5 separate regions of the Homo sapiens genome follow, and regions 1, 2, 3 and 4 are each reported to be linked to region 5. The links are microRNA targets in miRTarBase. Many come from high-throughput screens and were not tested one by one. Region 5 holds a microRNA gene; each other region holds the end of a gene's coding sequence. Distances are from middle to middle.

Region 1 (4,031 bases), not on the chromosome of region 5:
AAGGATGCTTATTAAACCAGGAGCATTTTTAAAAAGGTATTTGCATCTATTTCTGTCAACACAGTATAAATGAGAAGGTTAAGAACCAGGTGCCCTGATATTTGTTATAGAAACACCTAGCCAGAAGCATAGATTAAGTTTAGGGCAAGCTGTATTTCAAGACACTGTGTCAAAGTCTTGATAATGGATGGACTTTTAAAGACATTTAAAATTAAAATTGACTTTATTTTAAAAGAAAAAAACAATCGAGTGTTAAAAAAAAAGAGGAAGACTAAGTTTTCCATCAAACATACTCAAAACAATAAATGATGGGGGTGGTTGATAAGGGAAACTGAATTAATGAGTCAACGTGTAGTACTAATTATCTGCTGAGATTTCAACAAAATACTGATTAACTTATTTAATAACACTCCATTCCACTAGGTCGTGGGTGTTGAGAAGCATGAATGTGCGTGTGCACACACACACACACACACACACTCCTACATATTTTTAAATGTTAAGAATTACACATTTACAAAACTTTTTATTGCTTATGTGAACTAGTAGCAACTCTGACATTACAGTCTTTATAAGGTTTTTCTTTAAACTCCAAATCTCGGTATCATGCAAATAAGTGACACCTTTAATGTAATTTTTTTAAAATTTATTTTAAATTTATTTATTTATTTATTTTTTGAGACAGAGTCTCGCTCTGTCGCCCAGGCTGGAGTGCAGTGGCACGATCTCGGCTCACTGCAAGCTCCGCCTCCTGGGTTCACGCCATTCTCCTGCCTCAGCCTCCCCAGTAGCTGGGACTACAGGCACCCGCCACCATGCCTGGCTAATTTTTTTTGTATTTTTAGTAGAGATGGGGTTTCACCGTGTTAGCCAGGATGGTCTCGATCTCCTGACCTCATGATCCACCCGTCTCGGCCTCCCAAAGTGCTGGGATTACAGGCGTGCGCCACCGCACCCGGCCTAATGTAAGCTTTTGTCCTGGAAGGAATGTTGGCCACAGCTAATGGCAAAATTTGATTTGCATTTATGAGTGTAGAAAAAAATGCCCACATACAGGTAACTTTCAATATTATATTTGCCTAAATCAGGAAAATACGTAAATGTTTCAGATGTACTCTCTGAAAGGTGTTTAATGCTTTTTTTTTTTTTTTCCTATCAGTGAGAAAAGATCTATGGGTACTAGTTGTGTGTGGAGTATCTTAGCCACTATGAAGCGTAAGCCCATTTAGTTTCAGGATAGAAAAACACAGTAAACGAAGCGCTATTTCTTGGCTGTGAGATAATATTATTTTGAGAAGATGTCATCTGTGACACAGCAACTGACAGAAGCAAACTGACTCATCTGGTTTATCTCAGTAGATGGCATAAAGTATAACCTTGCCCAGGAGAAGTGGCAAAGAATTTCTTATTCATATTTATATCTTTAGTTTTGCTATCCAAAGGAACACACCTGCTAGATTCTGAGTTCCATAGTCTTAGACTGGAAGGAACTTCCAAAATAGTTCCTGAGCTCTTTGTTTTCTGGGTGACGAGGTAATTTGTTCACTGGCTTCCCTGTAAAAGTCTAGAAGCCAGTGCTGTGGTGGCCCATCACACACTGTGGGTCTCATGAAGGTTGGAGAGAGGAGTCTGTTCAGATGGAGCTTCTTGTTTCTGCTTCTTACTCTTCCTGCTTTTAAATTCCCAGGCCTCATAGACTCTGAACTGCTTGCTTCGATCTGCAATACTGCCTCTCTTCCAAGGGCTTTGTCTGGCTCCCTAACCTTGATCTATTTCGTGCTTTCGATTTTGCTACCGGTCAAATGGGCCCTACTGGACTTCCGAATCATTGCTTTCTTTATCTTAGATGCCTGCTAGGCCACTCGATCCTTCCAGAAGCTAGAAAGCCTGGCTTGCCCCTTGTCTAGCCACCTTTCCCAGGCTGTGCCTCACTTTGTGGTGTATAGAAGTTACTCATTTCAAAAGCTAGGGAAAGTTACAATTTACCTGTCAGTAAACAGAAGATGGTTTATCAACAGACTTTACCTTAATGACTACAAATGTTTACCTCCTGCTTTCCAGAATGCAAAGAAAATCTTGGAAATGTCATAATATCTTACAAACATTTGCAAAACAGATCCTTGTTCATCCGGAAAAGAAACAATTGTATTTGTTGTCTCTGTCACAAGGAAAACGTTCAGTGAGAAACACATAGGTAGATGTATACATCTATATGTAAATGAATATGCTAATTAAAAATTGCAGTGGGTACTTTATTAAGAATTTATTTTACCATCTAGCCATTCAAAACATCTTTACATCAACAAACACAGCAGTTTGACTATTGAAATCATAAGCGATTTATCTTGAAAAGGTTATATTTGTAGGTGGATGCAAGTATATTGGAGAAATATTTCTATCAAAATCACTGGTTTTGTTAGGAGTATTTTGATTTTTCTATTTTTACGCTGGGAAAAAAATTAAAACAAGTATGTCAGTGTTCATTTTATGGGATAGTTGGCTTCACTGTGTTTGTCATGTTTGTCCGAATTACAGCTGTTTATCTTGCAACTTTAAGATTAATTAAATGCAAATGTAACTCTGTGAATCATGGGAATACCTGCCAGACCTCTTATTAATACCTTCACTTAAAACCCCCTGTGCCTGAGAGTCATTAATTTGCTAAAAGAAAAGTGCTAAAGCAGCCCTTTGCCCACAAACAATTCTGCGATGGCTGCCCAATTAATCCCAAAGCATTCTGATCCTCCTTTCAGGCCTCGTGGCCCTTTGAGGACACAAGAAGGCTCCGATGATAACCTGGCAACCTAGGTAGAAACCCAGCCAAGTGTGAGCGTTTGAAGCTGCAGTTTGGCTGCCATCGTGTCGGCGAAAAGAAAGAATTCAGGCACCATGTCATCCAGTACAAAGGATAAAAACGGATTCAACCGGAAATTCAATGTGGCACCACATATGGGATACATGAGTGCGGTTATACAACAGGCCACATATTTTTTTTGAACAGTCTCCTACATGTGATGCCGAGGACATGTGTAACCATCATAACGTCTCTAGGAATCTGTATTTAATTTGAGTTGGGGTGGTGGCAGGGATTGGAGATCTGAAGCCGCCACAGGTTTGTGGCAGATGGCTCTGTGTCAGCTATGACAAGCAGCCAGGCTCAGCTTCCTCTGCAGATTTTCTTTTCTCTCTGATCAGGTAAATATGGGCACACTCTGGAAAGTTCTTCAGATTCTGCCTTAGGCTGCAAGTTTGTGACTTAGCCCCATCTGTCACAAATCTTCCCTAGGTTCTGTTGTAAGCAGAGACCTGAATTTACCATGTAGGGCTGCCCAAGAAAACGGAGCGATTTCACCCTGCAACGAGGAGGAGGGAGAGAAGAGAAAGAAGTGAAGAGCATTAATGACTAAAAGATGAAAGTATGCTGAAAATTTATATTGCAAATTTGCATCACTTACGTCAATTACATTTCAAAAAGCCACCAAGTAAATGGTTCTTGAGTTTCATCACCTCAGGAAATCTCAGTTTCTGATTGGTCTAAAGTGTCGTTGTATTTCCAACCAGAGAAGAAGGCTACTGTTTTCTGCAAATGGGTATATTCTGCTGCACACATATTTCTTGGTTTATGTTATGAATGACAACCATTCATAGTTGGATGATGAAAGTTCATCATCCAACTTTTAACTTATATAAACACAAGACACGTAACACTGTACATACAAGTTTCTGCCGTGAATTTTACTTTTAAATGATGAAGACACAAAGATAAATGCCATTACTATTATGTGAAATTTAAAAAGTGCTTCATATTTATAACAGGTTTATATTCATTATTTCATTATACCAGTACTTCAGGGGTACATTGATATTTAAAAAAATATTCTTCCAGGTTTACAGATGAATCACATAGAGGCCAAGAAGATCACCTAGAATCAGGTTGCAAATGAGTAGCAGAGAAGGACAAAACCTCTAACTGATCTTAATCAGCCAAAGCATATCTGTGATGCTAAAAGGTTTTTTCCTTTTATTTTATT
Region 2 (4,031 bases), 32 Mb from region 5:
GCAGTGAACTGAGATTGTGCCACTGCACTCCAGCTTGCGAGACAGAGTGAGATTCTGTGGGAGACAGAGCGAGACTCCCTCTCAAAAAAAAAAAAAAAAAAAAAAAGAGAAATCTATGGGCTCACAAATCTGAAGGTTGAAAAGTCCCAGATGGTGGGGCTGGTATTTGGTGAGGGCCTTCCGGCTTCCTTGTAACATAGCGGAAGGCATCTCATCTGAGACAGAGGGGTGAACTCATTCTTTATAAGGAATCCATTCCCGTGAAAACTCACTCACTTCCATGGTCATGGCATTAGTGCATTTCTGAGAGCAGAGCCCTGGTGACGTAATTATCTCTTAAATGTCTCACTTCTAAAATCTGTAGCACTGCAGGTTAAATTTCCAACCCAAGAACTTTGGGGGACACATTCGTATCCCAACACACGGTTTTATCAAATGCTTCTCCAAAGTGATTGTTGCCAGTTACCACACCCTGGCCATCCAGATGGGCCATTTCCCCTAGTGTCCCTTTAGCAGCAAGGACAGTTGGGAAAGGGTGGAGCTGGGACTGACCCTGTGTCTGTAAATATTATATAATTATATACCCTGCTTCAGAGTCCCCCTCTGTTGCCCTGGAGTGCAGTGGCATGATCATAGTTCACTGTAGCTTCCAACTCCTGGGCTCAAGCTATGATCCCCCTGCCTCATCCTCCTGAGTAGTGGGTACTATAGGCATGTGCCACCATGCCCAGCGAATTAAAAAAATTATTTTTGTGTGTGTGGAGATGGAGTCTTGCTATGTTTCTAGGCTGTTCTTTTTTTTTTTTTTTGAGACGGAGTCTCGCTCTGTCGCCCAGGCCGGACTGCGGACTGCAGTGGCGCAATCTCGGCTCACTGCAAGCTCCGCTTCCCAGGTTCACGCCATTCTCCTGCCTCAGCCTCCCGAGTAGCTGGGACTACAGGCGCCCGCCACCGCGCCCGGCTAATTTTTTGTATTTTTAGTAGAGACGGGGTTTCACCTTGTTAGCCATGATGGTCTCGATCTCCTGACCTCATGATCCACCCGCCTCGGCCTCCCAAAGTGCTGGGATTACAGGTGTGAGCCACCACACCTGGCCTATACCTTGCTTCTTTCTCTTTCTTTCCTTTTTTTTTTTTTTCTGGAGACAGTCTCCCTCTGTCGCCCAGGCTGGCGTACAGTGGTGCAATCTCGGCTCACTTGCAACCTCTGCCTCCCGGGTTCAAGGGATTCTCCTGTCTCAGCCTCTCGAGTAGTTGGGACTACAGGCTTGCATCGCCACACCTGGCTAATTTTTGTATTTTTAGTAGAGACAGGGTTTCACCATGTTGGCCAAGCTGGTCTCGAACTCCTGATCTCAGGTGATTCGCCCACCTTGGCCTCCCAAAGTGTTGGGATTATGCCCTTCCTTCCTTCCTTCCAGACAGGGTCTTGCTCTGTCACCTAGGCTAGAATGCAATGGCAGGATCTTGGCTCGCTGTAACCTTTATCTCCTAGGTTCAAGCAATTCTCCTGCTTCAGCCTCTTCAGTAGCTGGGATTACAGACACTCGCTACCACGCTCAGCTAATTTTTGTATTTTTAGTAGAGACGGGGTTTCGCCATGTTGGTCAGGCTCGTCTCGATCTCCTGACCTCAGGTGATCTGCCTACCTCCCTGCTTCTCATTGAGGTCTCTGCCAGTCAGGTATCAGCACAGGGAAAGGGCTCAAGGGCAGTGTGTGGCCATGGCCCTGTTTGCAGAAGATGGCAGTAGGAGCAACCCTTTCTACATTTACTCAACACAGCCGCTTATGACCAGCCTGGTTAGGCCTCAGGGCAGTGTGCGGAGACTCACTGTGATCTTAGCTCCAGGTGCTCCTCCAGCTGGAGAGGCAGCCTACGGCTGATCACAGTGCAAGGCCAGATGTCCCTTTCTGTCTCTGTGACGGCAGAAACGAGGTCTGTCTCATGACTCTATCCCAAGCACTTGTCACAGTGGTGCCTCTGAATATGTTACGGGTCATTCACTCATCCATTAAATATCAAGCGCCCCTACAACACCTCATGGGGACTTCACTTTTTATTTTGTTTTTGAGACAGGGTCTCACCCTGTCACCCAAGCTTGAGTGCAGTGGCTTGATCATCGCTCACTGCAGCCTCCAATTCCTGGGCTCAAGTGATCCTCCTGCCTCAGCCTCCTGAGTAGCTGGGACTACAGACACACACCACCATGCCTGGCTAATTTTTTTTATTTTTTTATTTTTGTAGAGACGGAGTTTCATCGTGTTGCCCAGGATGGTCTTGAACTCCTGGGTTCAAGAGATCTACCCACCTCGGCCTCTCAAAGTGCTGGGATTACAGGCATGAGCCATGGCACCAGGCCAAGCTTCACTTTTACCGGGAATGGGGATGATGAAGGCTAGGAGCGTCCCGGTCTGGAGAAGCCCAGGCCCCTTAGCCTTTCTTCTGATGGAGCCACAACTGCCAGGGCCCACCTCTCCCACCCACTCACAAGCAGGGCTCACAGAGCAGAGCCCCCGATCAGAAGCCTCTCCAAGGCCAGGCTGCAGGGAAGGCAAGCAGAAAGAGTATCCACTGTTCCAATCTGATTTTATTGAAAAGGAAACATACAAAAATCATGTACAAAAAAAATTAACCAAACATGTACAGAAAATTCATTCCGGTATCTACAGCAGCGCATATACAGTATCTTACAGGCTGGGCCATCCCTCCCCACTCCCAGACTCCTCCCTCTTCCGAGATTTCCCCCCCTCCCTGACTCCCCGTCTTCCCCCCAGCGCTTGGCCCTGGGGACTAAGGCTGGGGCGGCTTCAGCCAAAATCTCCCACCCCCCAAATGAATGCCAGTGGTCACACGTGCTCTCTCTAAACCTATGCAATGGGATTGATGGGGCGGGGGGCGGTCACGGGCAGAGCACAGGATTCACAGTCTGGGCCCCTCCTGGCCACCCCCTGATGAAGGTGAGGCAGGCATGCCCACCACCCGCCGGCTGGCTCAGGGAAGATGGCTGGGCGCCGGGCTGGAGCAACCGGCAAACGAGCCCCACTCTCTGGCTCCAGGAGGCTAGTGGTCACGTTTGGCTCATTTGCTCTTCACGGGCCCCCTCCCAGGAGGAGGGGGGGAAGCACCAGGGGCCTGAGGCCAGGCCCAGAGTGAAGGAGCACCGAGAGGAGAGCCCCCCCCTCCCAGTGTCACCCCTGCAGCTGGAACGGGCACCAGCACAACAGCCTTTCCTGAGATGGTGGTGGGCGGCAGAGGCGGGCGGCTCAGTCCCCACCCCCTCGGTCACCGCCACCTTCCGATGCTGAGTCCATCAGCCGTCCCTCTCCTGGCTTCTTGGCCAGGGACCCAGGAGTCCGCATCTCCGTCAGTGCACCCCAGGCTGGGCTGGGGCTGGAGTGGCTGCCCCGGCCCGCCCCCGGGACAGGCAGGGCTGGGAGTCCAGTATGCTACATGGTGCAGAGAAAGTCCCCCGCGCTGGCCAGGGTGTCAGGAGGTGGGAGGGGCCTGCCCCCCGAGTCCCTGACGTCCACCGGGCGGGTGCAGGCACCTAATTGGGCTCCATCTCGGGGGCTCTGTGGCCCCTGGGTAAGGGCAGGAGTCCCATGATGAGATTGTACAGGACCCTCCAGGGTGAGGGGCGGTGCCGCTGCTGCTCCTCTTGTCTCTGGGGAAAAGAGAGAGAAGGGGCAGTTAGCAGGGGACTGAGTATGGTGATGGGAGTGGGGATGGTCAGCTCCAGGGGCAGCGAGGCGACAGTCTCGCCCACCCTATTCCAGCTCCTCCCCCCGCCTGGGCTAATGTCCATGTCTCGGAGGTCACATCCTCATCCAGGACATGAGACCTGGAGGCAGAGGACAAACACGGAATGCCTTCAGCAGAGAGCTGGGCACCAAGCGAGTGCGTGGCACATTAGCTGTGACTGCCCCGTCTCTGTTGTACATTTGAGAAAGACATCCCCCAAGGGGCTGAAGGATGGACTGCAACCTATCCTGCCCCTCCCTACAGGGCTGGCAAGATGAGGAGAAAGGA
Region 3 (4,031 bases), not on the chromosome of region 5:
CAGGCCATAGTCCTGGAGGCCGGTGGTCACCCACTGCTTCCACCCTGCCAGCACCCTGGACACCGGCCTGGAGCAACAATGCTCCAGCCCTGTCCCTCTGAGTCTATGCACTGTCCCTGGGCCCTGGACCCAGGGCCATAGGGTGGACCCAGAGGGAGACACATGCACTGGAATATGTGTGTTCTGACCGAGTCTGGGCTTACCAGGGGGACTGACCCTTCCCCCAAAACGTGTACCAGATCTGGTCCAACATGGTGGGCCTGGGGGACCCCATGGGGAGCCAAGCAGTCGGGATGGGGAGTGGGGGTGGGGGCAGGCGGGCCTGAGTCCGAGGCAGGCCGAGCAGGGCCCCTGCCCCGCTGCCCCCACCCCGCTGCGCCCACCTCACTGACCCGCCCGCCCCCCACCCCCACAGGACGCACATGCAGAACATCAAGGACATCACCAGCAGCATCCACTTCGAGGCGTACCGTGTGAAGCGCCTCAACGAGGGCAGCAGCGCCATGGCCAACGGCATGGAGGAGAAGGAGCCAGAAGCCCCGGAGATGTAGACGCCACCCTGCCCACCCCCGGGATCCTGCCCCCAAGTCATTTCCGTCCCCCCCCAGGCCCTCCCACCACCCCATTTTATTTTATATGATTTTCTCCATTTGTCATCGTTCCCCACCCCTTCGACATGCTGCCAGGAAACAAGGGAAGGGGCCTCCCTCCGAGTGAGTCAGTGATGAGGCCGCGGCCTCCCCGAGGTTGTGGGGAGGCTGCACTGGAGCCACAGGCAGGGGTGAGAGCACCCACTGAATTGACATGACCCTCTGTCCCCAGGCCTGGCTCCCCGAGGGCTCAGAAGAGCAGCTTCGGTGTGCAGATCATCCGTCTGTGTGGGGTTCTCAGTGCCGGAGGCCTTGGGGTGGGGGCCAGGCCTCGCACTTGCAGAGGAGCCCAGTGGGCTGCACGCTCCCCTCCATCCCCATCGGCCCTGTCCCCTGGAGTGTGTCAGAGCCCAGGGGAGAATGCAGCCCACCAGGAGCACCTGGACCCCCTGCCCGCCACATGGTGTGGCCATCACTCAGCCCCTACCCCTGCCCTGCTCCTAAGGGTAGAAAACTCCAGGGTCCCCTGCCACCGACTGCCCAGCCACTCCAAGCCCCCTGGCAGCTGCCCCTCCTGGAGCAGAAAGTGCCTTTATCTCAGCCATCCGCAGACTGCTTGGCCAGATGCGGGGACAGGCTGGAATGAGGGAGGCGTCTTCATCTCCCTGCCATCCCCCTCTCACGCCACCCCCGCCCCCACCGGGCTGCAGGTGCTGCTGATGCGCTGGGATCTGATTGAGGATAAAAAGGAAGGAGAGATGACCCCTACCCCCTCATCCCCCAGTTTTGAAAAGGTCTAAGCAAGTGAGTCTGGTGGAGGAGCTGAGGGAGGGAGCCATGGAAGGTGCCAGAAGGAAGGTTGGCGGGGGCACGTGTGGGCCGTGGCTTGGGCTGGTCAGAGTGGCGTGAGCTGCCCGGCGCCTGCCCTGCCCAAGTGACCAGGGAAGTGTGTGTGTGTCCATGTGTATGCGTGTCCGTCTGTCTGTCTAGTGTCTGGGTTTGGCCCAAGACTGGGCTGTAGTTACATTAATGCCCAGCCAGCCACCCCTGCCACTCACCCTTCCTGGCCCAGGCCTTGCTGACTCTCTGAGCTGGGGAGGTGGGAGGCCAGGCGAGCCTGACTCTGTTGATCTACCCGTGCCTGGGCCCCTCCCCTCAGAGCCCATGGTAACGAACCCCTAGAAAGGAGAGAACGGGCGTCAGGGGTGCACAGTCCACAGCTGAAGAGCAAGGTTTCGTGGCAGCACGGCCCGGCCCCTCACCCTCTGTCCCCACGAGGGGACCCATGGGGGCTGTCTTTGCAGGGCACAGATGACCAAAGTCCCTTCCTGCTTCCTGTTACCTGTCTTGCTCCTGGGGAGAAAGAGGGGCCTGATGAGACTCCACTCAGGTGCACACATCACCAGGTGCATCTGCAGGCACCGGGCTGGCTGCTTGCAGCCAGGAGAAGGTCAGCGAGAAGGAGTGTATGAGTGTGAGTGTGTGTGCATGGAAGTTGGGGCACTGGGCGTCTGACTCCCTCCCCACCCAAGAGAGGAAGGACCCCTCACCACCCCCACTGGTGAGACAGTTTACTTTGCCAACTTGCCATGTTTTTGCCAAAACCAAGATTTTGAAGGAAATGAGTGGCCAGCGCCAGGGCCCAGGCCATGTGGCCTGCCCAGCCTCAATGTCACTTGGTGGCGGGGTGGGGTGGGGGTGGGCAGCAGCATCCCAGCCTTGAGATGCTTCACTTTCCTTCTCTGTAACCAGACTTTGAAAAATTGTTCGTTTCATCAGGCTCTGTTCCTCAATGGCCTTTTGCTACGTGCCTCCCGAGAAATTTGTCTTTTTGTATAAATGACAAAGTGTTGAAAATGTATTTCCTGAAATAAATGTTTCAAATGCAGAAACCCAGAAGGCTCCTGAGTGAGAATGTTTTTTCTGCCCCTGAAGTGCAGTTCTTTGGGCCTCGGGACAGGTTGGGGTCAGCTGCAGGTGGGCAAGAAGCATGGGCAAGAAAAGGTAGGCCGGGCGCGGTGGCTCACGCCTGTAATCCCAGCACTTTGGGAGACTGAGGCAGTTGGATCACAAGGTGAGGAATTTGAGACCAGCCTGGCCAATATGGTGAAACCCCGTTTCTACTAAAAATACGAAAATTAGCTGGGCATGGTGGTGGGCGCCTGTAGTCCCAGCCACTCGGGAGGCTGAGGCAGAAGAATCGCTTGAACCCCGGGAGGTAGAGGTTGCAGTGAGCCAAGATCATGCCACTGCACTCCAGCCTGGGCGACAGAGCAAGATGCCATCTCAAAAAAAAAAAAAAAAGAAAAGGTAAGGCCAGGTCAGATCTCGAATTCAGACTCCCAAGATTTGAAACTAACAAACTCCCTGAGAACTTATAATTCCAGAGCACTGTGAAGAGTGAGAATAGCATCAAGGCGATTGCTGGGGCGTTGTTTAATCTACCTGGGGTAAAAGTTCCCAGGGCTTGAGAAGCACTCAGCGGAGATGACTGAAAAGTGAATGGCAGATCTGAACGCTTTCATTAAAGTGGGGGATCTGAAGGGCGTCCACAGGGGGCGCTGTGAGCTGCTTCTAGTTAGTGTATCCTTGAAAATAACTTTTTCTGTTTTATTTTTTGAGACAGGGTCTTGCTCTGTAACCCAGGTTGGAGTGCGGCGGCACGATCACAGCTCACTGCAGCCTCTACCTTCCAGGCTCAAGCGATCCTCCTGAGTAGCTGGGACCACAGGTGTGCACCACCACACCTGGCTAACTTTTTCATTTTTTGTCAAGATGGGATCTCACTATGTTGCCCAGGCTGATCTCAAATTCCTGGCCTCAGGTGATCCTCCTGCCTTGGCCTCCCGAAGTGCTGGGATTATAGGCGTGAGCCACTATGCCTGGCTGACAGTAAGTTTTTCTTTTAGAAATTTATATTAGATTGAACTCCAGACTGGTCAGTATTTGACAGTTGTTTTATGCCAACCTAACTCATTCCAAGAGAACTTGATTCCAAATAGATTAGAAGTCAGAGCCTTGGCTGAGTGAGCTTTTCTTTGCAGGTGAGCTTAGGAAGTAAGGTTCAGGGAGCTCTGGTCCGTATGCCCTTTGCGTGTGCAGAAGGGCCTCACCCGGATCCCTTCTCCCACGTGTATTAGTGCCCTGCAGCTGCCTTAACAGATGACCATGCAGCAGGGCTGAAAACAGCGGAAATTTATTCTCACAGTTCTAGAGGCCAGAGGTCTGAGATCCAGGTGTCCCAGGGCCTCGCTCCCTCCAAAGGCTCTAGAGGAGGTTCCTCTCTCCTCCCCCAGCTCCTGCTGGCCACTTCACCCCATCTCTGCCTCCGTCTTCACAGCCTTCTCTCTCTCTGTCCTGGAGGGTCAAGAGGGCCAAGAGGGCACTCTTCCAGGACTGAGGGCCCACCTTGATTCAGTTCGATCTCATTTAGATCCTCAC
Region 4 (4,031 bases), not on the chromosome of region 5:
CTAGGACATTGAGGTGCTGCTGGGCCACGGGGCAGACCCAGGCATCAGGGACAGGCATGGCCGCTCTGCGCTGCACAGGGCTGCCGCCCGAGGACACCTGCTTGCCGTCCAGTTGCTGGTCACCCAGGGGGCCGAGGTGGATGCGCGGGACACCCTGGGCCTCACACCCCTGCATCACGCCTCTCGGGAAGGCCACGTGGAGGTTGCCGGCTGCCTGCTGGACAGGGGTGCCCAGGTGGATGCTACCGGCTGGCTCCGAAAGACCCCCCTACACCTGGCTGCAGAGCGAGGGCATGGGCCTACCGTGGGGCTTCTGCTGAGCCGAGGGGCCAGCCCCACTCTGCGGACGCAGTGGGCCGAGGTGGCCCAGATGCCTGAGGGGGACCTGCCCCAGGCGCTGCCTGAACTTGGAGGGGGGGAGAAGGAGTGTGAGGGCATAGAGTCCACGGGCTGAGCCAGACAGCAGGCTCCAGGCTCCACCGCCCCAGTGATTTCCAGGCTCTCTGGCTGAGGCTGCCTGCCTGGAGGGGACATCAGGGAAGAGGCTTCCGGAGGAGGGGATGGGAGAAAGTAGGGGATGTGGCTTGAGCTGCAGTCACAGGCCTTGGCTGGACCAGGGATGGCCCCCAGCTCCCAGGAGGGCCCACTGACCCTGCAGCTCCAGCCTTCTCCATACTTCAACAAAGAATGAGTTGTGGCAATGAGGGAAGAGAGACCCTCTCATAGTGTTTTATACTCAGTACCTGTTTTAAGAAAAAACAACAAGGAAGTAAAACCAAAGACAGGCAGGCAGCCTGGCGCTAGGCCCGAAACCAGGCCTGCGCCTGCCTGGCCTAAACCCAGTAGTTGAAAATCAATTCATAACTTAGAAACCGATGTTATTCATAGATTCCAGACATTGTATAGAAGAACATTTGTGAAACTCCCTGCCGTGTTCTGTTTCTCTCTGACCGCCGGTGCATGCAGCCCCTGTCACGTACCGCCTGCTTGCTCAAATCAATGACGACCCTTTCATGTGAAATCTTCGGTGTTGTGAGCCCTTAAAAGGGACAGAAATTGTGCACTTGGGGAGCTCGGATTTTAAGGCAGTAGCTTGCCGATGCTCCCAGCTGAATAAAGCCCTTCCTTCTACAACTGGGTGTCTGAGAGGTTTTGTCTGCGGCTCGTCCTGCTACATTTCTTGGTTCCCTGACTGGGAAACGAGGTAACTGACAGACGACCGAGGCAGCCCCTTAGGCGGCTTAGGCCTGCCCCGTGGAGCATCCCTGCGGGGGACTCCGGCCAGCCTGAGTGACGTGAGCTAAAGAGCGCTCCCGGGTAGGAAATTGCCTCGGTGGAACACCTCGCCAGAGCAGCCCATAACGGGCCCCCATGGTGGATTAACACAGTGGCTGAACACCGGGAAGGAACTGGCACTTGGAGTCCGGACATCTGAAACCTGGTAAGACTAGTCTTTGGAACTTGCCCCACTCCACCTGAGTAGACGCGTGGCCTGATCGCCCACGGCGTGCCTGCATTAGCACCTTTGTTCTGGTTTTGACTTGACTGAGATCATGTGATACTTTGGTTTTGGTTTTGACCTGGCTTGGATTTCTGGATACTCTGATTTTGGTTTTGATTTTGGTTTGGTGTAAACTGCAAAAGTGTGTGTGTGCCCTTTTTACCTGTTTTTTGTTTTGTGGTGTGAGCGTGGTGTTTTGTCTTGAAGAAGCGTGGGTCAGGCACAGATAAGCCCACCCCACTAGGAACTATGTTAAAAAAAATTTTTCAAGAAAGAATTTAAGGGAGATTACGGTGTTACTCTGACACCAGGAAAACTTACAACTTTGTGTGAAATAGACTTGTCAGCATTAGAGGTGGGTTGGCCATCAGAAGGAAGCCTGGACAGGTCCCTTGTTTCAAAGGTATGACACAAGGTAACGTGTAAGCCAAGGCACCCAGGCCAGTTTCCGTACATGGACAGTTAGAGCAGGTTTTAGACCCCCTCCCCCCTACGGTAGTTAAGAGAACAGCAGCATAAGCGGCTGGCAGAGGCAAGGAAAGACCAGCAGAGAGAAAAAGAGGCCATCTATACCAATTCTAAGTTAATTTAGACTAAACAAGGTCTTATTAATAGCAAAGGATAATTGAAATCCCAAACTTCCAAGGTTTTCAACAAAAGCGAAGTTTGCTAAAAGTTAACAGTGTAACATGTTAATGGTAACTTTTAATCTTGTGGCCTCAGACAGTCTAGTCCAAAGACATAAAAAAAGTTCGCTTTAAAAAAGAAAAAAAAAGGGGAGGCTGAATTTATGTGAAAAGCATGTTATACGGTAAATTCTTGTCCTGAAATATATTAACTGGTTGTTTAAAAGTTTGTAATAAGGCAGAAAGTTGAGATATGTTGAAGAATTGTCGGCGAAAGTTGTAAAACAAAATGTTATAAAAAATTTATGCAAAAAATGTTGTATAATTTAAAAGTAATAAGGCCTCCTGAGTACTATTTTTTTTTTTTTTTTTTTTGAGACGGAGTCTCACTCTGTTGCCCAGGCTGGAGTGCAGTGGCGTGATCTCGGCTCACTGCAAGCTCCGCCTCCCGGGTTCACGCCATTCTCCTGCCTCAGCCTCCCGAGTAGCTGGGACTACAGGCGCCCGCCACCACGCCTGGCTAATTTTTTGTATTTTTAGTAGAGACGGGGTTTCACCGTGTTAGCCAAGATGGTCTCGATCTCCTGACCGCGTGATCCGCCCGCCTCGGCCCCCCAAAGTGCTGGGATTACAGGCGTGAGCCACCGCGCCTGGCCCCTGAGTACTATTAAAAAAAAAAGTTTATGTGCAAGGTGTACAAGAAAAGTAAAATATACCTTTGGTAAAAAAAATTATAAAGGGGCATAAAAATATGGATTTTTACCTACATTAAAAGGTTAAAAAAATTATTGTTTTTAAGAGTTTAAGCAAGTTTTAAAATGTAAATTGTAAAGAAAATTCTGTGTGTAAACATGTTAACTAAAGTTAAAAAGGTATCGTCCAGTTTTTCTGTGAACTGGACATTAAAGTAAAAATGCAACAGGTTTTTCTTAAAGCATCAACCTGCTCTTTAACAAAAGTTATAAAAGGTTAAAAAGAGTCTATAAAATCTTACCTTATGGTCAAACATGAAAAATTGGATAAATATGTCTACAAGGTTTTATTAAAATTAAGTTTAACATTAATAACACACTAATATAAAGGTAAAATTTAGCTTATCTGGTATAAAAATCATACAAGAAGCATTATTAAATATAAAATGGTGTTTAGCTTTCTTTGGTCTAAAAACTAATAAAAATAGGTGCTAAAGGAAACATTCATTTTACTAGAGGATCATGGAAGTTTAAGACTTAAAACAAACTTTGGCAATTAAGACAGCATACCAAGATGCAAAATGCCTGGTTGAAATGGATCAGATATTCCATCTGATGTTAAACAAAAGCAATTGTGATGCTCGTGCACATGGCAGGCCAAAGGCTCTGATTGTCCCCCTTCCACTAAGGTGGTCCTTCAGTCGACCAGGCGTGGGCTGCACGGTAGCTCTTTTCCAGGATTCTACAGCCTGGAGCAGCAAGTCATGCCAAGCTCTCCCCGCTACATTCTGCAGTCCCTGCGGGTCAGCCCCCGAGGGCCATCCAGCTTCCGTCTCCCAAAACTAAGTTCCCTTCGTGTCTCTCACGGCAGGGAGGAGACTTAGCAGTCCTTGGAGACTGGAAGGGATGCAGTGAGCTTAAGAATTTTCGAGAGCTTATCAATCAGTCAGCCCTTGTTCATCCCTGAGCGGATGTGAGCGGATGTGTGGTGGTATTGTGGTGGACCTGTACTGGGCACTCTGCCGAATAACTAGAGTGGCACTTGTGCTTTAGTCCGTTTGGCTATCCCTTTCACCCTGGCATTTCATCAACCAGAGGAGAAAAAAAAAAAAAGACATCGTAAAGCGAGAGAAGCCCCTTATGGGTCTTTCAACTCTCACATCTATTTAGACGCAATTGGAGCCCCACAAGGGACACCAGATCAATTTAAAG
Region 5 (4,065 bases):
AGATAGAGTGCACAGAGAAACAGACGGGGCAAGTGGATGGGCAGGTGGAAAGAGAGGCAGGGCCCACGGACAAACAGACTGGGATGGATGCATAGACAGACGGATCGATCGGGTGGATGGGCTCACTTGCAAGTGCGCTCGCGGCCACCGGCGTGGCAGTCGAAGTTGTCGTAGAGGCAGGCGGGCGAGCTGCAGGCGGGGTCGCAGCGGCTGTTGTTGAAGAGGCGCCAGCACTGCAGCGCCTCGCATTGCCGCCAGGGGTCGCCCACGCTCAGCGAGCAGTCGCCGCCGTCCCAGCCGCAGCCTGGGCTGTTGCACTCGCGGTCGCAGCGCTGGTCCCCGCGCTTGGCCTGGCAGGCGGCGCGCGGGCACCGCGGCTCCTCCGAGACCTCGGGTGCCGCGGCGGGCGCCTCGCAGCGCGGCCCGGTCCAGCCCTGCGCGCAAGCGCAGCGGAAGAAGGGCGCGAGCGGCGCGGGGCGGCAGGAGCCCCCGTGGAGACAGGGGGCGGCCGCGCAGCTGGCGTTGCTGGCCCCCGGCGGCGACCCCGGGAAGCTGCGGCAGGAGGGTCCCGACAACCCTGGGGGGCAGGCGCAGCGCGGCCCGCGGGGCGTCTGCTGGCATGGGACGCCCACCGGGCACTGCAGCTCCCGGCAGGAGCGCGCCACCCGCTCGCAACGCGGACCCCAGAACGGCTGGGGGTCGGGTTTGGGGAGGGAGGGATAAAAATGAGGGTGGGGAGTGGAGGGAAGGAGGAGAAGAAATGGAGGAGTGGGGAAAAGAAGAGTCAAGGGGAGAGAGGGGGAAGAGAAGAGGTCAAGACTAAGGAAGGTTGAGACCCCCTCAACCTCCCCATGTCCCACCCAACCGCTCCCCTTTCCACACTGGAGACCCCACCTGGCAGATAAGCCCTGCCATCCCAGGAGGCCACGCCCCCCAATCACCATCCTCACCCTTTTCCCTTCAAACCTCCAGGAAATGTCGGGGCAGGGGGTTGTTTCTTTGTTTTTTGAGACGGAGTGTCACTCAGTCGCCAGGCTGGAGTGCAATGGCGTGATGGCTCACTGCAACCTCCGCCTCCCGGGTTCAAGTGATTCTCCTGCCTCAGCCTCCCGAGTAGCTGGGATTACAGGCAGCTGCCACTACGCCCGGCTAATTTTTATATTTTTAGTAGAGACGGGGTTTCACCATGTTGCCCAGGCTGGTCTCTAACTCCTGGCCTCAAGTGATCCTCCCGCCTCGGCCTCCCAATGTGCTGGGATTACAGGTGTGAGCTACCACACCCGGCGGAAATGTCAGCATTTTCCAGAAACTCCCTTCCCTTCGATGTCTCCCCTAAAGCCACATCCTCCTCCTAGACGCCACGCCCCTACTACTCCAGAGGCCACGCCCCTACTCCTCCTCCAAAGGCCGCCACCCACACCTACCTGGGCACAGTGACAGGTGAAGGTCAGCCCACCCCCAGGACCCGGGCTAGGACGGCACTGGCCTCCATGCTGGCATGGCTGGGACTCGCAGGGAGACAGGACAGTCTGACAGCGAGGACCTGAGCGAGCGGGAGCATGTAGATCAGCCACAATGGGGGAATGACAGGCGGGGTCCCAGGCCAGCCCCTTCGCCAACGCTTACCTGAGAAGCCAGCATGACAAAGGCAACGGAAACCTCCGCCTGGGTCCTGCAGGCAGTCCCGGGTGTGTGCCGCGTGGCAGGCACCTGAGCGACACTCATTGATGTCTGCCTCGCAGCGCAAACCAGTGTATCCTGGGGGACAGGTGCAGCGGAAACCACCCACCAGGTCCACGCAGGTGCCATTGTGTAGGCACCGGGGCCCTGAGTCCAGCGGTGGGCCTGGGCCGCAGTCATCCTCATTAATCTCGCAGAGCACCCCTGGGGGAAGAAACGAGGGGTGGTCAAGAGGGAATGAAGACAGCCTCTCATCCTGTCCCCCCAACCCTGGCCCTGGCATACCCAGCGTTCCTGGGGGACAGGAGCAGAGATAGCGGGCCACGAGGTCAATGCATGAACCCCCGTGCTGGCAGGGCTGGGAGGCACACTCGTCCACGTCGTCCTCACAGTTATCACCATTGTAGCCAGGAAGACACTTCAGTGGGGTAAGAGAGGGACCCACTCAGCTTAGTGGGACACAGACCCACCTGGACATACCCATGAAGACGCAAAGAACCCCAGCACAAAAGGACACACACAGATGTTCAGCGCACTACCAGTAGGTAATCCCAGCACTTTGGGAGGCCGAGGTGGGCAGATCACCTGAGATCAGGAGTTCGAGACCAGCCTGGCCAACATGGTGAAACCCTGTCACTATGAAAAATACAAAAATTAGCTGGGCGTGGTGGTGGGTGCCTGTACTCCCAGCTATAATGAGAGGCTGAAGCAGAAGAATCACCTGAACCCAGGAGGCAAAGGTTGCAGTGAGCTGAGATCGCGCCACTGCACTCGTCTGGGTGACAGAGTGAGAACCTGTCTCAAAAAAACAAACAAATAAAAAAACACCCCAGATCTACCCAGAGTGACACCCACAGATACACCAAGAGTCACAAAAGCAAAAACTCAGACATATCTAGAGACATACCCATACCAAGCCACACAGAAATGTGTGCCCAGACGCACCCAAGCATGCCCACCTCCTCTTCCCTCTCCTGGGGAGCGCCCCCTTACCTCACACATGTAGCCCCCCATATAGCCACGGCAGGTCCCCCCATGCTGGCAGGGCTGGGCCAAGCAGGGGTCCACCTCCTGCTCACAGTGGCTACCAGTACGGCCCTCTGGGCACACGCAGTAGTGGGAGCTGTCTTCATCCACACACTGCCCACCCGCCTGACACAGCTGCTCCAGCCGCACCCCTGCAAAGAGGAGAGTGGCACAGGAACAGAGGTAACCCCATACATCCCCCTTCTGCCTCCATCACACAGATCATTCAACATCCTTGGTGGAATGAGTCCCCAGGATCGCACCCACACTCCATCAGGTTGTCACACATCCCCCCAGCAGGCAAGGTCTCATCACTGACATACACACACATGCCTTCAACGCTCACAGCAGCTCGGTCACACCCTGTAGCACACACACCATCCCTGCTGTCTCACAGTGACAGACACACACCATCCCGGCCAGTTGTCACATGCTCACACACCCACACCACTCAGCCACACACCCCATCATGCCCCATAGGCTCTGTGGCACCCCCATTCGGCTCACACTAGCAGGAGGTACGTGCATGAGCCCCTTCCCAAGGCCCCACACGCCCGCCCACATGCTCCCACTCACCGATCTGGGCTGCGGCCTCCCTGCAGGGCAAGCTTCGGATGTCACAGAGGCGTCCGCTCCATCCAGGGGGACAAAGGCAATAGGCCCCAGTCTGGACGCAGCGACCCCCGTTTTGACAAGGCTGGCGGCTGCACCAATCCACCAGCGTCTGGAGGGGAAGCACTCAGAGTCAGTACTGTGGGGTGGGGGGTAGTCTGGGAGAAACTGTGCCCCGACTTGGCTTCTCCCTCCTAGGATCCCAGGCAGGCTCCTCCCCCAGGTCCCCAGTAACTCCACCCACCTGGCACTGCGGGCCCGTGAAGCTCTCGAGGCAGGTGCAGCGGAAGCCAGGGTGGGCGGCGCTGCAGACGCCCCCGTGTAGGCAGGGCCGCGAGAGGCAGGGGTCTGCCTCATGTTGGCAGTGGGCTCCTGTGTAGCCGGGACGGCACAGGCAGCTGAACGAGTTCACGCCGTCCACACAGGTCCCGCCATTGAAGCAGGAGCTGGAGCGGAAGGAGTGGGAGGGAGGATCAGGCTCCGCCCCCTCACAGGCCCTGCCCTCCTTCCTGAGTCCCGCTGTTAGCGCTGGGGACGTCCCACTCCCTGACCCTTATCTCGGCAAGAAGCTGCAGCCCCAGCAGAAGCCAATCAGGTCCCTTAGCTCCAATTCACCAGGGACTTCAGCCCTAAGGTGAGAGCCACCTGGAAGCCATGCCCTCTCAGGCACCAGAGACTCCAAGGTGAGCTCCAAACAGACGCCCTGCTCCTTCCCTGGCCCTGCCCCATCAGTCATCAGAGTCCGCA

The links. Region 5 holds the annotated microRNA hsa-miR-6795-3p (ACCCCUCGUUUCUUCCCCCAG, at 1,885-1,905, opposite strand). A microRNA usually pairs through its seed, bases 2 to 8, with sites in the 3' UTR of a target mRNA and lowers its output. Matches are read on the target gene's strand: a 7mer-m8 pairs with bases 2 to 8, a 7mer-A1 pairs with bases 2 to 7 and ends in A, and an 8mer does both.
Region 1: the mRNA of QTMAN is a reported target of hsa-miR-6795-3p. The part of its 3' UTR that is shown has no 7-base or 8-base seed match.
Region 2: the mRNA of BBC3 is a reported target of hsa-miR-6795-3p. Seed matches in the 3' UTR shown: 7mer-m8 at 3,277-3,283.
Region 3: the mRNA of SEPTIN9 is a reported target of hsa-miR-6795-3p. Seed matches in the 3' UTR shown: 8mer at 1,865-1,872.
Region 4: the mRNA of ANKRD65 is a reported target of hsa-miR-6795-3p. Seed matches in the 3' UTR shown: 7mer-A1 at 525-531 and 7mer-A1 at 555-561.

Annotation. Positions count from the first base shown.
Region 1 is chr2:143,943,783-143,947,813 of GRCh38, forward strand. It overlaps QTMAN (queuosine-tRNA mannosyltransferase), which reads right to left. Exons shown (of 12, transcript NM_001376312.2): 12 at 1-3,353. The coding sequence ends at 3,270. The region is part of intron 2 of QTMAN-AS1 (QTMAN antisense RNA 1); the gene reads left to right. Among named protein-coding and RNA genes, the nearest start is that of QTMAN-AS1, 8.7 kb to the left of the region's middle.
Region 2 is chr19:47,218,253-47,222,283 of GRCh38, forward strand. It overlaps BBC3 (BCL2 binding component 3), which reads right to left. Exons shown (of 4, transcript NM_014417.5): 4 at 2,572-3,666. The coding sequence ends at 3,550. Among named protein-coding and RNA genes, the nearest start is that of MIR3190, 6.7 kb to the right of the region's middle. RefSeq lists a silencer at 1,767-1,967.
Region 3 is chr17:77,498,108-77,502,138 of GRCh38, forward strand. It overlaps SEPTIN9 (septin 9), which reads left to right. Exons shown (of 12, transcript NM_001113491.2): 12 at 416-2,486. The coding sequence ends at 551. Among named protein-coding and RNA genes, the nearest start is that of MIR4316, 100 kb to the left of the region's middle.
Region 4 is chr1:1,415,523-1,419,553 of GRCh38, reverse strand. It overlaps ANKRD65 (ankyrin repeat domain 65), which reads left to right. Exons shown (of 4, transcript NM_001145210.3): 4 at 5-1,134. The coding sequence ends at 454. Among named protein-coding and RNA genes, the nearest start is that of ANKRD65-AS1, 2.6 kb to the left of the region's middle. RefSeq lists enhancers at 609-1,058, 1,226-1,305.
Region 5 is chr19:15,177,399-15,181,463 of GRCh38, forward strand. It overlaps MIR6795 (microRNA 6795), which reads right to left and starts at 1,952; the gene lies at 1,885-1,952. NOTCH3 (notch receptor 3) reads right to left here. Exons shown (of 33, transcript NM_000435.3): 18 at 3,563-3,764; 19 at 3,283-3,430; 20 at 2,674-2,858; 21 at 1,966-2,098; 22 at 1,627-1,884; 23 at 1,425-1,543; 24 at 127-692. RefSeq lists a silencer at 247-416 and an enhancer at 3,787-4,065.